Linked DNA regions of Homo sapiens: region 2 is linked to region 1. Evidence: fine-mapped expression QTL. Tissue or cell type: whole blood. Region 1 holds a variant in brackets; the other region holds the start of a gene. All regions are shown on one strand. Distances are from middle to middle.

The links. PIP is the estimated chance that this variant, and not a neighbour inherited with it, causes the effect.
Region 2: TACC1 starts here. The variant in region 1 is fine-mapped to the expression of TACC1 in whole blood (INTERVAL, PIP above 0.99).

What each region holds. Positions count from the first base shown.
Region 1 is chr8:38,875,343-38,883,556 of GRCh38, forward strand. No RefSeq gene overlaps it. Among named protein-coding and RNA genes, the nearest start is that of PLEKHA2, 22 kb to the right of the region's middle. The variant A/G (reference allele first, on the strand shown) is at 4,951.
Region 2 is chr8:38,783,384-38,791,597 of GRCh38, forward strand. It overlaps TACC1 (transforming acidic coiled-coil containing protein 1), which reads left to right and starts at 3,853. Exons shown (of 13, transcript NM_006283.3): 1 at 3,853-4,360; 2 at 5,321-5,436. The coding sequence starts at 4,200. RefSeq lists an enhancer at 3,457-3,536 and a silencer at 3,577-4,116.

The sequences.
Region 1 (8,214 bases):
ATGGCTCACTGCATCCTCAACCTCCTGGGCTCAAGCAGTCCTCCCACCTCAGCTCCCTGAGTAGCTGGGACTACAGGCACGCCACCACACCCAGCTAATTTTTAATTTTTTTGCGGGGGGGCGGGGACAGGGTCTCGTTCTGTTGCCAGGCTGGAGTGCAGTGGCGTGATCTCAGCTCACTGCAACCTCCACCTTCCGGGTTCAGGTGATTCTCCTGCCTCAGCCTCCTGAGTGACTGGGACTACACGTGCATGCCACCATGCCCAGCTAATTTTTGTATTTTTAGTAGAGACGAGGTTTCACCATGTTAGCCAGGATGGTCTCAATCTCTTGACCTCATGATCCACCCGCCTCGGCCTCCCAAAGTGCTGGGATTACAGGTGTAAGTCACCGCACCCGGCCATTTTTAAATGTTTTTGTAGAGATGTGGTCTTGCTATATTGCCCAGGCTCGTCTTGAACTCCTGGCCTCAAGTTCCTCCTACTTCAGCCTCCCAAATTGCTGGGATTACAGGTGCAAGCCACCATGTCCGGCTTTAGCAGGAATTATGAAGTGACAAATTCTGTCTCTGACAGTCCTGCTTCAAGCAGCTAATGCATCCCCTGGTACCATCTGTGATTGGATGAGGACTGTGGAAATGGTGCGGACACTGTAGAATGATGAGAGGTGGCTAACAAGTAAATAGGCTTCAAAATAGCTTGTGCCCCATAGGTATTTTTACTTGCTCAAACTCCTTCCAAGTTCCCTCCTTGCCAATGGGGCTCAACGTGTGGATGTAGCTTATGTTGGGAATACTGGCAGCTCAAAGACAGATCTGCTATAAGTCTCAACTGACATGTTCATTAAAATCCTCATGTTTGTAATCCTAGCACTTTGGGAGGCTGAAGCAGGTGAATCACTAGGTCAGGATGGCCAACATGGTGAAATCCCATCTCTACTAAAGATACAAAAAAAAAAAAAAATTAGCAGGGCGTAGTGGCGGGTGCCTGTAATCCCAGCTACTCAGGAGGCTGAGGCAGGAGAATTGCTTGAACCTAGGAGGCGGAGGTTGCAGTGAGCTGAGATCATGCCACTGCACTGCAGCCCGGGTGACAGAGTAAGACTCCATATAAAAAAAAAAAAAATAGAAATTCTCACTGAGCTTCAAGCATCTGGTTTCCTGCTCCTTTGGCAAAACTATCATGTGTAATCTAAATATGCAAAACAGGGGAAATCCGTTCTTTTTACACAATAAAGTACTCCAAGCTCTGTGCTCAATGGTAGGGAATAAATATGAGTAACAAAGGGTCATGTGTGAACAGGGAGAGATGCATGTAAACAGACACGTGCTGTCAAACATTGAGGATGCAGAGGAGGGAATCATCCATTTAAAACAATTTTTTTTTCTTTAGTGATGGGGGTCTCACTATGTTGCCCATGCTGGCCTCCAACTCCTGGGCTCAAGCTATCCTCCTCCCTCAGCCTGCCAAGTAACTGGGATTACAGACATGAGCCACCATGCCCTGTGGGAACAGTCCATTCTATCTGGGGGGTAGTGATCAGGAAAGATGAGGTGACATTTGACCTTCGGCTTGCAGGATGTGTAGATTTTTGTTTGATGATGGATGGCGTAGGGAATGCTGTACCCAGAGAGATGCATCCTGAGAAAAGACATGGCAGAACCCACGAGGCAACCTGGAAGTTGCTTGGCATGGCCAGGCAAAGGAGATAAAGAGACACAAGGAAAAATAAGGATGGAGCGAAACATGGGGCGAGAGCATTCAGGGCCTTGTAGGCCAAGCTAAGCAGTTTAGGTGTTAACAGCAGGCAAATGGGAGCCACTGGAAATTTTTAAAACCCAGAGAGACATGATCAGATACTTGTCCTGGAAAGACCAACCTTGAAGCCATGTTGAAGAAGGATTGAAGAGATATGGAAGGCCCAGGGAGACAGGTCACCCTCCTGATTAACACTTTTCAACAGCTTAAGGTAAAATCCAGACTTCTGGCTGGGCATGGTGGTTCATGCCTGGAATCCCAGCCCTTTGGGAGGCCGAGGTGGGTGGATCACCTGAGGCCAGGAGTTCAAGACCAGCCTGGGCAACATGGTGAAACCCCATCTCTACTAAAAAAAAACCAAAAAAACAAAAAACAGCTGGGTGTGGTGGTGCATGCCTATAGTCCCAGCTACTCAGGAGGCTGAGGCAGGAGAATCACTTGAACCCGGGAGGTGGAGGTTGCAGGGAGCTGAGATGGCACCACTACACTCCAGCCTGGTGATGGAGCGACACTCTGTCTCAAAATAAATAAACAATAATAAAAGATCCAGACTTCTCATTGTTGCCCAGAAGGGCCCTGCCCACTTCTCCATGCCACCTGGTTCCACTTTTCCTCTCAGAGCAATATGGCAACCGAAGCCCCTCCAATATGGCGAGATCTTTTCACCTCAGGGCCTTGCATTTGTTTGCTGTTTCTCTTTCTTGGAGTGTTTGTCTTTGAGCTCTCTCTGCGAAACTTTCTTCTCAGTCTCAATTTTAATTTCCCCTTCTTCAAGCAAACAGTTATATTCTTCATATTGCTCTGATACATCATAAACATGGGATTCTTTTGTTTGATTATTGTCTTTCGTACCCACAAGCTTCATGAGGGAAGGACTCATTCCTATCTTATTCACCAACATGCCCCCAGAGCCTGAATGAGTGAATGACCCAAACAAGGACTAACATGAGCCTGAACTAAGGCGAGGAGGAGCCAGGAGCAGGGAGGAGGAGATGGAAGGGGTGTAGGCAGTGGGAATCGATACGGCTCGATGACTAATTGGCTGTGGGTGGTGAGAGAGAAGGAGTGACAATGACATTTCGGTTCCTAGCTTGAGTGACGGGGTGGAAGTTATGTCTTTATTATAGAGACAGGGAATGCAAGAGAGAGAAGTTTATGAGACAAAGTCAACAAGGCGAGTTTTAGGTATATTAGGTTTGGGGCATTTGGAGGTAGAAGACCAGCGTGCAATTCGATACAGGAATGTAGAGAGAAGTAGAAAGGCTCAAGCTGCAGACACATACTCAGGAGCTGTCCACATGCATGATGATTGCAGTCAAAGGAAAGACATCCATCAGAGGAAAATGGAAAGGGTATGGGTGCAAAGGAGAGGAGACATGAGTGCAGTTTCTTTCTGAGAATGCATCTCTCTGAGGGATAGAAGGGACATTGAGCTGCAGGGACCTGCCAGCCTTCCCCGTGCCTCCTAGGCGTGGTTTGCTCCCAGGCTGACTAGATGAGAACCCATCATGGCAGAGCTCAGAGAAGAGCATGTAGAAGGCCAAGTGGGAGACATCTGCCCTTGCCTGTCCTCTCTGAGAAAAAGACAAAGGGTTTCAGTCACCCTGGGACCAATTAAAGAATGATATCCAGGCCAAGTGCAGTGAGTCATACCTGTAATTCCAGCACTTTGGGAGGCTGAGGCAAGAAGATTACTTAATCCCAGAAGTTTGAGACCAGCCTGGGCAACATAGTGAGACCTCATCCCTACAAATATTTTAAAAAATTAGCTGGGCATGGTGGTATGCACCTGTGGTCCCAGCTACTCTGGAGGCTAGGTGGGAGGATTGCATGAGCCCAGGAGGTGGAGGCTGCAGTGAGCTGTGATTGCACCACTGCACTCCAGCCTGGGCAACGGAGTAAGACCCTGTCTCAAAAAACAAAACAAAATAAAACAAACAAACAAACGAACAAAAAAAAGAGTAAGACCCTGTCTCAAAAAAAAAAAAAAAAAAAAAAAAAGGCATGACGTGCACAACAGCTTTTAACCTGCTGCACTGAACATGGGGATATGTGGGCAGGAATTTTATCAATACAGTTGGTGCAGTTGAGACCAAGAACCACATCCTCAGTCCAAACAATACTGTCTCCTTTCAGAAGTCTACTCTCTGTAAGAGTACATTCATACAGGTCCACTTACAGAGTGCCCTATTTTACCTGCTTATTTAAATAAGGTGTATTTCAAATAACAATAGGTTTAACTCTTCAATGGAGAAAGGAGAATATAAATCATCATCATCATCTTCTAAAACAATACTACAATGAGCTTTTTTTCCTCCTAGTTTTTTCCCCCTGACCACAGGCTTTATAAAGCATAGTCAAAATCATATATATATATATATGGGCATATATATATACATATATATATATGGGCATATATATATACCCATATATATACATATATATGGGTATATATATACACATATATATACATATATATGGGTATATATATACACATATATATATGGGTATATATATACATATATATGGGTATATATATATACATATATATATATGGGTATATATATATACATATATATATGGGTATATATATATACATATATATGGGTATATATATATACATATATATGGGTATATATACATATATATGGGTATATATATATGGGTATATATATATACATATATATATGGGTATATATATATACATATATATATGGGTATATATACATATATATATATGGGTATATATATATACATATATATATGCATTTATGTGTGTGTGTGTATGAAATGTATCTTGTGGCCAGGCACAGTGGCTCACACCTGTAATCTCAGCACTTTGGGAGGCCGAGTGGATCATTTGAGTTCAGGAATTCGAGACCAGCCTGGCCAGTATGGTGAAACCCCACCTCTACTAAAAATACAAAAATTAGCCGGGCGTGGTTGCGGGAGCCTGTAGTCCCAGCTACTAGAGAGGCCGAGGCAGGAGAATGGCTTGAACCTGGGAGGCGGAGCTTGCAGTGAGCCGAGATCGCACCACTGCACTCCAGCCTAGGAAACAGAGCAAGACTGTCTTAAAAAATAATAATAAAATAAAATGTATCTTGCTTTTTAAAAAATAACCCATATGACAACATATAATTTTTCAAAATTATTTTACTTTTATTAATTATGGTACATCATAGTTGTACAT[A/G]TTTATGGGGTACATATGATGTTTTTTATTTTAGAGTTGGGGTCTTGCTATGTTGTCCAGGCTGGTCTCGAACTCCTGGTCTCAAGTGATCCTCTTCTTTCAGCCTCCCAAGTAGATAGGACTGCAAGTGAGAGGCACTGTGCCTGGCATCTTGCTTTTTTTGGCTAAACATTATCTTGTAAGCTGTTTTTTCCATACACCCTCAGCATTTTGATGATGGTATGATACTCTTTTCCCAATTGTTGAACATTTAGGCCATTTCTAATTGTTCTCTATTTTAAATATATATAATTATTTTAAAAATCATTGTCTATTAGTTTGCTAGGGCCACCATAACAAAGTACAACAGACCTAGGTGGCTTAGGCAACAGAAATTTTTTTTCTCACTGTCTGGAGGCTGGAAGTCCAAGATCAGGGTGGGAGCAGGGTTGGTTTCTGCCCAGGCCCCCTTCCTGGGCTTGCCATTGGTCACCTCCTTCCTGTGTCTGCACTGTCTTTCTTCCGTATTTGGGCATCCCTGGTGTTTCTTTATGTGTTCAAATTTCCTCTTCTTATATAAACACTACTCAGATTGAATTAGGGCCTATTTTAATAGACTCTGTTTAACTTAATCACCTCTATAAAGGCCCTACTTCCAAATACAGTCAATTTTGAGTTACTGGCGTTAGGGTTTTAACATGTGAATTAGGGGTTGGGGGGAGGCATAATTCAGTCCCATAACACATTATGTTCAATTTTTTCTCACTTGCATTTTAGATCATTTTCTTTGGATAGATTTCCAGAGTGGGAATCACTGGGCCAAATGATAAAAATATTTTAAGGCTCTTGAAAACTGCTTTTCCAAAGAATATAACAATTGGTTCCACAGCAGCCTGCTTAAATTAAAAAAAAAAAAAAGTAAATGGACTGGGTGCGGTGGCTCACACCTATAATCTCAGCACTTTTGGAGGCCCAGGAGGGCGGATCACTTGAGGTCAGGAGTTTGAGACCAGCCTGGCCAACATGGCGAAACCCTGTCTCTATTAAAAATATGAAAATTAGCTGGGTGTGGTGGCGGGTGCCTGTAATCCCAGCTACTTGGGAGGCTGAGACAGGGGAATCACTTGAACCTGGGAGGCGGAGGTTGCAGTGAGCTGAGATCACTGCACTCCAGCCTGGGCAACAGAGTGAGACTCCATCTCAAAAAACAAGCAAGCAAATAAACAAACAAAAAAACAAATAAAAAAAACAATTTTGTGAGCACTGCCTTCAGCAAGAAAAGGGCAAGGGGAAACAAAGTCATGAAAAGCTTGAACTGAATCTGTCCCAGGGCACCAAAAATTCTGCTTCCCATGGAGCTCTTGGAAATGTTTTTTTTTTTTTTTTTTCAGAGACAGGGTCTCACTCTGTCACCCAGGCTGGAATGCAGTGGTGCAATCATAGCTCACTGCAGCCTCCAATTCCTGGGCTCAAGTGATCCTCCACCTCACTCTCCCAAGAAGATGGGACTACAGGTGTAGAATCATGCCTGATTAATTTTGAAAATTTTTTGTAGGGTGGGAGTTTTGATCCATTGCCCAGGTTGGCCTCAAACTCCTGGGCTCAAGTGATCCTCCACCTCACTCTCCCAAGAAGATGGGACTACAGGTGTAGAATCATGCCTGATTAATTTTGAAAATTTTTTGTAGGGTAGGAGTTTTGATCCATTGCCCAGGTTGGCCTCAAACTCCTGGGTTCAAGCAATCCTCCCTTCGGGGCTGCACAAAACAGTGGGATTACAAGTGTGAGCTACCTTGCCTAGCTGTTGAAATGTATCTTTATTAAAAATCAAAATATAACCAGGAAACAGAAAGTGAGTATATGAACGGTGAAATTGTTACATATCCTATCTCATGCCATTCTTATTAGTTGACTATTGTCTTTTACTGAAAAGCAACTCATGCCAGAATCAACAAGAACTTTTGTTTTGTTTTGTTTTGTTTTGAAATGGAGTTTCGCTCTTGTTGCCCAGGCTGGAGTGCAATGGCGTGATCTCGGCTCACTGCAATGTCTGCCCCCCAGGTTCAAGTGATTCTCCTGCCTCAGCCTCCCAGGTAGCTGGGATTACAGGCGCCTGCCACCATGCCCGGCTAACTTTTGTATTTTTATTAGAGACGGAGTTTCATCATGTTGGCCAGGCTGGTCTTGAACTCCTGACCTCAGGTAATCCACCTGCCTTGGCCTCCCAAAAGTGTTAGAAGTGAGCCGCTGCGCCTGGCCTAACAAGAGCTTTAAGTATGGCAAACTTGTACCTTTGAGGTGTAAAATTAACTCAGCATGATAATTCCTGGCCATTACCTACCTCACAACTTCAAACAGTTTTTTCAAGAACTAGGCATGCAGAAATAAATGGTGGATTTCATTGAAACCTAAAGGCATTTTTGAATGACATTGTCACCAACCATTAATTGGTTCAGGACCTTTGCAATTTTTATTTAACTTGAGTTGTCTTTTTTTTACCATGCTTTTTTCAATGCATTGCTCAGTATTTTTTAAGTTTCATGAACGCATGCTCAATTCATTAGATTCCATGACTGTAATATTTTGATGCAGCATTTTGCAAATTAAGTTGCATTTTCAGAGCAGTTCTGTATGTTCTGTGATACCATCTTTTCAAAGAGAAACCTTTAAAACCTTAAAAACAAAAGAAAGAAAAACGAGGCCGGGTGCAGTAGCTCACACCTGTAATCCCAGCACTTTGGGAGGCCAAGGCGGGCAGATCACGAGGTCAGGAGATCGAGACCATCCTGACTAACACGGTGAAACTCCGTCTCTACTAAAAATACAAAACATTAGCCGGGCGTGGTGGCGGGCGCCTGTAGTCCCAGCTACTCGGGAGGCTGAGGCAGGAGAATGGCGTGAACTTGGGAGTCGGAGCTTGCAGTGAGCCGAGATCACACCACTGCACTCCAGCCTGGGCAACACAGAGAGACTCCATCGCAAAAAAAAAAAAAAAAAAAAAAAGAGAAAAAAGAAAAACAAAACTGCCCCAAACCATAGAAAACTCTTAGGTGTGCGGTCCTTTTTCTTGTTCTCATTTTTTTTCCCTTTCCTTTTTCTTGTCAATAACAAACATTTGCCAGAGTCTACAGATGCTAGCTAAGGAAGGGCTGAGATGGGGTGGAAATGGGTCGGAGGTGGGTGTCGGAGGGGACTGAGGGTGGGGTGGTTACATCTACAGATCTGGTGATATTTTGTCTTTTAATAAAGATGCATTTCAACAGCCAGGCAAGGTGGCTGCCACCT
Region 2 (8,214 bases), 92 kb before region 1:
GGATCTTTGTTAATCTTCCTGGAACTCTGAAAGAGTATTTTCTTTTTTTTTTTTTTGAGATGGAGTCTCACTCTGTTGCCCAGGCTGAAGTACAGTGGCATGATCTCGGCTCACCGCAATCTCTGCCTCCCCGGTTCAAGTGATTCTCCTGCCTCAGCCTCCCGAGTAGCTGGAATTACAGGCGCCTGCCACCACACCTGGCTATTTTTATATTCTTAGTAGAGATGGAGTTTCACCATGTTGGCCAGGCTGGTCTCATACTCCTGACCTTAAGTGATCTGCCTGCCTTGGCCTCCCAAAGTGTGGGATTGCAGGCATGAGCCACCGCACCCAGCCTGAAAGAGTATTAGCTATGAACATACCCTGACACCTCTCTTTTAAAAAATTAGAAAGGAGCTTCTCTTTATAATTTTCTGTATAAATGCATTGTACACAGTCCTGATTTCGGTGTTTGGGTAGTGGAGGGAAGATTGTAATTCTATAGATGTTTGTAGTCTACAGGTAAAGGATAATTAGGTAAATATCTGATCTTGCAAGGTTAAGACTGTCATGTTAACATATTTGAATGCGGTCAGATGCTGTTATTGGCAATGTTGTCTTGATTAGACATCATCATGCCCTTGCCTGGTTAGACTGAGGTAGGGCAGAAAAGCAGATAGGGTGGCCACAGCCTCCTGTTGGCAATGGCACGTCTTCACTGACAGGGCTAGAGTGTTCCTAGTTGTGACTTTGCAACCTGTACCAGGTAAGAACGAAGCCAGGACTAGGAGCAGCAGACTGAGAGGAGTGGTCCAGCTAATGGACTCATATTCATTACTGCTTACACTAAGTTCAAGAACTTGCAGAGGAGTGATTTTCAGAAACCTTAGGCATTTATTTGCTAGTCCAGTCTCAAGAAGTTGCTGCAGGCCGGGTGCGGTGGCTCACACCTATAATCCCAGAACTTTGGAAGTGGGTGGATCACCTGAGGTCAGGAGTTCAAGACCAGCCTGGCCAACATGATGAAACCCCGTCTCTACTAAAAAATAAAAAAATTAGCTGGGCATGGTGGCAGGAACCTGTAATCCCAGCTACTTGGGAGGCTGAGGCAGGGAGAATCGCTTGAACCCAGGAGGCGGAGGTTGCAGTCAGCTGAGACTGCACCACCGTGCTCCAGCCTGGGTGACAGAGTGAGACTCCATCTCAAAAAAAAAAAAAAGTAAATTGCTGCATAGGTGAGGCTTAATCTTACTGGGGCCATCACTTGGTCCTGGGTTCTGTTATTTTCTGGCCCAGAAACTAGATTTCCCCAGGGGGAGTCAGGCTTTAGGAATTTATGTCACCTTAGCCAAACTCACAAGGACTATTTGTAAACTAGAATGTTTGTTTTTTCTTACATATATATTGAACACCTACTGAGTGTGTGGTTCTGTCCTAATTTCTGGAGGAAGTCCCAAAGGGGGGTAAAGTCCCTTTAGAAGCTTGTGGGACAGATATGTAAATAAATATGTTATATATGGTGTGCTAAGTGTAGAATGGCCTTACATCCTGGTCTTCTGGAGACAGTCCTGGTTTATGCCTATAGTCCCTGTGTAACTATTAAGAATGCTGTCTTTCACTTTCAGATCTAAGGCCACAGGAAGTGTTCTTTATGGATGTTCGGGGTATAGAAATGATAGAAAGGAAGGACAATGAGCCTGCTTCCCCCTGTAGACACTTGAGCTAAGTGCTGAAGGACGTTCGAGCAGCTGAAGCCTGGGAACTTGGGGTGGGCTGGGGTGGGGGAGGAGGTGTGTTCCAGGAATTCGCAAAGCTCCCTCTGCAGGCAAAGGGAGACTGTTCCCGAAGCAGTAAGCAGTTGGTTCAAGCTAGGCACTGTTTCCCAAATTTACCCTGTGATAACAGTTCCCCAGGACACTTAGTGAACACACAGATTTCCAGACTCTGCTGGCAATTTGGATTTTTTTAAGAAGGCTGGCGGATGATTCTTGGGCATATTAAAGATTGACAACGAGTTCTCTACTCACTGTGGCTAGGAATACAAAAGGATGGGCATAGAGGGGAATGGGAACCGAAAGATTAGAGCACGAGTCACTGATCAGCCAGGCAGGGGTGACCTCAGGCAAGAAAACCTTCAGAGGTAAAACCAGGTGGGAGTTATTTACAGTAGATCATGAAAGATGGGGAGTGCGGGAACTATGTCAGTCACCACAGGGATGCAAAGGAATGAAAAGATAAGAGAACTATTCAGGAGGAAGAACAGGTCCTAGTGTATGCTAGTTACTGATTTGCTGGGGTAATATTATTTCCCAGAAACAGAACCCTGTGTCAAATCCAGGAGCCTGGGGGACTGTAGAACCTGAAGTTTTACTGGGTAAGCATAAACCTAAAACTACAACAGTTGGATAAGTGGTGTGATATATTTCACATGGACCTCCTGCCTAGTTCACTTCTTTATAGTCGCTAGAACACTCATGACAATTTATTTCTGGGAAGAAGCCAGGATGAATTCGAAAGCATCCTGACACCCCACCCCTTTCTTTTCTCTAGACTTCAGGTTAACTCCTGCCCTTCGGTTTTGGTAAAACTACCCTGCCAAGCCTTATCTTGTATTTTGCTCCTGTTTTTGTTATCAAATGTGTAAAACAGTCACGATGAATATACATGCCAACTGCTTTCAGAGGCAACGGTTAGTCTCTTGCAAGTTTCAACGTGCACATTTTGGAGCTGCTGTCTCTGTGGGAACCTGCAGGCACCTCATGGATGCACCACAACTCGGAAATTACAGTACCACCTGGAACACCTTATCCAGGCAAGGAGATCATTAAGCCTGGTGTTTGAGGCAATCGATTCACTTGGAAGAAGGTGCTTTGGTGGTTTTGAGAGGAACAATCCCTACATGAAATCCCTCCATGGGAAATGGAGAACATCAGCTATTTCCCATTGCCTTCAAACCTAAAGATGTCGCCAGGCCTCTTGGCTTGTTACTGAAGCAGCGAAATAAGTCAGAAATCAAAGACTTAGAAGTTACGAAAAGAAAATCTCAAAAAGGAGAATGGGGTCAGGCGCGGTGTCAGGCCTGGAATCCTAGCATTTTGGGAGGCAGAGGCGGGAGGATCGCTTGTGGCCAAGAGTTCAAGACCAGCCTGGGCAACATATCGAGACGCCTGTCTGTATTTTAAATAAATAAATATGGAGAATGGGAAACCCATCAGGCTGTAATCTCACAGGGAATTTAGTACCCTTTACCTAAGACAAGACCTGGGCACTTGGGAAGCCTCCCCGAGTGCGGTTTGGGGAGGGGGAGGGCATCTTAAATTCCAGTCCTCGGTCACTCTTGTGGCTTTGCCAAGGGATTTTCAAATCCCGGGAATGCCAGGGATGGAGATGAACAGGCTGAAATCCCCCACGCTGCCAGGGTTAGGGAGGGGAAAACAACAGTCCACAGCGGCCGCGAAGGTTTGTATTTTTTTTTTTTTGGTAACAAGGGGCTTGTGTGCAGTCCAATATCACCATCGCCGTGAAGTCACAGTGGCAAGATGAAAATGTTTAAAAAAATTTTAAAAAGGAATAAGGAAAGAGGAAGAGGACAGCGTGCCCCGGCTCAGAAAACGGTCCTCCTCTGCCCCGGACGCCGGCGGACCTGTGGGGTATGACCGAATCTCCCCGCGCAGCCGGCAAGCCCCGGCCCTCAGTCGGGCCGCGACCAGCGTGACGCCGCGGTAGGGGGATCCGGCGGGCGCGCGGCCGTCTTCAAAGCCCCGGCGCCGCCGCCGCCCCCGCGCGCGCGCGCGAGTAGTACGGTCCGAGGGGGCGGCTTCTGGGGCGCGGCTCCGGCGGCAGCTGATGCGCGCCCCGCCGGCCGGGAGGCGGGAGTCCGCGAGCCGGGAGCGGGAGCAGCAGAGGTCTAGCAGCCGGGCGCCGCGGGCCGGGGGCCTGAGGAGGCCACAGGACGGGCGTCTTCCCGGCTAGTGGAGCCCGGCGCGGGGCCCGCTGCGGCCGCACCGTGAGGGGAGGAGGCCGAGGAGGACGCAGCGCCGGCTGCCGGCGGGAGGAAGCGCTCCACCAGGGCCCCCGACGGCACTCGTTTAACCACATCCGCGCCTCTGCTGGAAACGCTTGCTGGCGCCTGTCACCGGTTCCCTCCATTTTGAAAGGGAAAAAGGCTCTCCCCACCCATTCCCCTGCCCCTAGGAGCTGGAGCCGGAGGAGCCGCGCTCATGGCGTTCAGCCCGTGGCAGATCCTGTCCCCCGTGCAGTGGGCGAAATGGACGTGGTCTGCGGTACGCGGCGGGGCCGCCGGCGAGGACGAGGCTGGCGGGCCCGAGGGCGACCCCGAGGAGGAGGATTCGCAAGCCGAGACCAAATCCTTGAGTTTCAGGCAAGTACACGGCGTCCCCGCTGAGATGCAGACGCGCTTGCCTCCATCCATCTGCGACTCCCTCTGTGTGCGTGTGTGTGGTCGCCACCCGCGAAACCGTCCTCACGGCCGTGCCGCGTCCCTGCCCGGAGCCGGGTCCCCGTGTGCGTCCGAAAGTTCAGGATCTTCTGTCCTCCCGTGGGGTTTCTGGCCCCCGTTTCGCTAGGAGAGTTCCGCACCCAACCCAGAATCTGCAGTCTCTCCGCATCCCCGCTGGCCTCGGTCACTTTCTCTAAGCTTCGACCCCCAGCCCCCGCCCCTCCACACTGGAGCAACGTCACTGATCTAACCCAGTGCAACTTAGGGCCCCCCCGTGGGGAAGAAGTCGCTCCCCGGCCCTTCCCGGGGCCCTACCGTGTACCCAAAACGCAGCCGCGGTGAAGAAGGTCGCGTGATGACAGGCCCCTGGCAGCTGCTGGGAAATGGTGGTCTCTGCCGGGCTGTCATCCGCGTGATTGCGGAAGGCAGGTGACACCATTCTTAGCCTCGGGCCCAGGGAGTTCCAGCAGGTAGAGGCCTACCGAGCAAAGAGGAATGCCTAGCATCGGCCTAACTCGGGGGTGGGACCAGTATTAATTGTTAAAGCCTCTGGGAAAGGGCTCTTGTGACAAAAGGAGTCTGTTGGAAAAGCGCATTTTTCAGGTGTCTGAGGGAAGGATGACCTCGAAAATAAATGGTGCTGGAGAAAAGCTCCAGGGAATGGAGGAGCTTTCAGAGAGACAGGATGCCAGCCTGAGAAACCCAAGGAGGGCACTGCTCAGAGACCGCAGTTGCCTCCCGCAGGTCAGACCCTGCTGAGGACCGGTTGGTTGTGAAGTTAGACAAAAGTGCTGGACTTTTAGCCTCTGTGAATATGTAGATTTCAAAGGGTGTCGGAAATACCGTTGAAAGTGGTAATTCCTCATTTTTCCTCCTTGGCAGCTCGGATTCTGAAGGTAATTTTGAGACTCCTGAAGCTGAAACCCCGATCCGATCACCTTTCAAGGAGTCCTGTGATCCATCACTCGGATTGGCAGGACCTGGGGCCAAAAGCCAAGGTAAAGAAAAACTTGCATTTTTCCTGCCTGTTTTGTTTCAAAAGTTTTGAAAAATATCAATGAAGGAAGGAAAAAAGTGTAAATTTAGGACCATTTAAGAGAGTTTGACTAAGAAAGAGCTGTTTGAAACCTCCTGGCTTATGTATTTTTAGGGGTGTGGTGATCGAGGCTTTCTCCTCTGAGTAGAGTTTGTGCATTTGCAGTATAAGATTATCATTATCAAACATTCCTACTAGGCCTTTCTCCTCAGCCCCTAAAAAAATATGTATAGTAATGAAGTAGGAAGATCATGTTTATATTTGACTTCACAAATTCCTCAGGCTAAGTTGCTTTCTACTGGGGTGTGGCTGGAGACAAAAATTACAGGTAAGACTTGACTTAATTTTTGATAGGGAGGTTCTTAAGAGGCTTTTTCGGAATCACTCACCTCGCCCACTTCCATGCAGGGATGTGGTGAGAGCCCTTCAGTCTACTTAGGAAAACCTGGCACATGGATTCCCTCCCAGCCCCTCAGAGCCCAGCCCTTCATCTGCAGGAGCTTCCGTTGTCTCACTTAATTAGTAGAAACCTTTTTTGTCACACAGCCAGTTCAGAATAAAATTTCACCTATCCCAACAGAATTCATATGCTTATTTACTAAATAGAGTGCACTGTGATTCAGCAGTGAAGTCCTGCTCTCTCGAGCTAACATTGTGGAGGGAGAACCTGTGAAGGGTTAAGCAAAATATCTATGTCAGCTTGTGTGAAGCACTGTGGAGAAAAATAAAGCAGGGGAAGAGAATAGGGAATATGGAGTGGGGATAGGGAAGGCTGAAGGGGAGTTAGTGGGGGCATTCATGATTAGGTGACTTGAACAGAGACCTGAAGGCAGATTGAGGGAGCAGGCCTTGGAGGTTCCTGAGGTGGGAACCCTTCCAGCAGAAGGAGTGGCATCTGCAAAGGTCTGACAGCACCAGCCTGCTGCAGGGAGGCCGTAAGGTGGAGGGTTCATGGTACAGTTTGAGGACCAGCCAGGAGGTCAGTGTGGACTGACTACTCAGAGAGCAGGAGGAGCTGAAGTCAGCGTGGTCAGAGGAGGTCCAGATGCTGCTGCAGTGAGGATTTGGTTTTCAGTAAGGTGGAAAGCCACTGGAGGGCATATGCATTTCCAAGGGCTGCCATAACAGAGTAACTTAGCGGCTTACAATAACAGAAATTATTCTCTCACAGTCCTGGATAATTGAAATCAGAACCAGAAGTCTCAAGTCAAGGTGTTGGCAGGGCCTTGCTCTTCTGAAGGCTCCAGGAAGTCTGTCCTTGCCTCTTCTAGCCTCTGCTGGGTGTCTGCAATCCTTTGTGTTCTTTGGCTTGTGGCAGCAGAACTCCAGTCTCTGTCTCAACACATGGCCATCTTCTCCCTATGTATCTGTCTTACCGTGCCCTTCCTGTGAGGACACCAGTCGTTGAAGTTAGGGCCCACCCTAATCCAGTTTGACCTCATCTTAACTTGGTAACATCTTCAGAGATACTATTTCTAGATAAGGTCACATTCATAGGTACTAGGAGTTGGGACTTTAACATATCATTTTGAGAGACATAATTCAGCCCACAACAGAGAGCTTTGAACAGAGGGATTGTGATTCAGCTTCTTTTGTAAAAGGCTCCCTGGGCTGCTGTGTGGAGAAGGGACTCTAGGATGGAAGTCCTTTTTATGTGGTTTCTCTGTTCCAGTATCTGGCACTGTCACCCTGAAGTGGCAGCGCCAGCTTTCAGTTATCTAGCTACCTAAACTTTGTGCTGATTGTGACTTTCTCCTCTCCCTAATAAGTATTTTTATTGCTTAGCAACTTCTTCGTAGGTTGCCTAGGGAAGTCAAGTTACTCTGGTAATAGACTGCATGATGGAGCTGGAATTATTGGTAAAATGACATCAGCAAAAAGCTGATTTGGTTTTGCTTTAAATTGATAGCTCCATGCTGTGCTTACCCAGCTGAGAATTCAGCAATACCCTCAACTTGCCCTAGGCTGCATTTTGCCATTGTTCTAGGCAGGGACAACATGGGAATAGGCAAGCTTATATACTGGAGAATTTGTGTGCGACGCATAGCTGTGTAGCACTCTCAGTGATGAAGATAACACTTATTCCTCATAGCTTCCCTTTTCTTCCGTAAAGATTGGCAGATCAGAAGGGAGATTTTGAAGCTTGAAAGAACTATTTGGTGGCCTTTCCATCAAATTTAAATAAAGCTCATAAGACACATGTTAAGGAGCTGTTTGAAAGCCTTTTTGAATTGCCATCAGCTTGGGCGGCCCTTCCTCATCGTTTTGTCAGCTGCTAGACTGATTCATCCCGCCAGATTCTTTGCCAATTGAATAGAGGCCTGGATGACCTAGGCCCCCAAAACCACAGAGACCCAATTGTTTGGTCCTTCCTGTACCAGTGACTCTCACATTTTTTTCATTCTCTCTAAAAGGAAAACTTTTAAATGTTTATGGATCATGAAGGCTCTATGGGGTAGTTCATGAATGCAGACTGTAATTGTAGGGGTAGAGGAGTGTCCAGTCCAGGAAACAACCCTGCATATTATGAAGGCTTTCAGTTTAGGGTCTTTAAACAATAGGATGATTGCTCATCAACCTGGTCGTACCCTGACTTCCAGGGTCCTTGGGTGCAACATCCGGAGCTAGTCCAGAGTACCGCCAATGGCCTTGTCACACATACACAGCAAATGTGCAAAGACAGCCAGAGCACAGGTCTGCCTGGAGAGGATTTCAGTGGGCAGAAAGCCCTTCAGAGTCA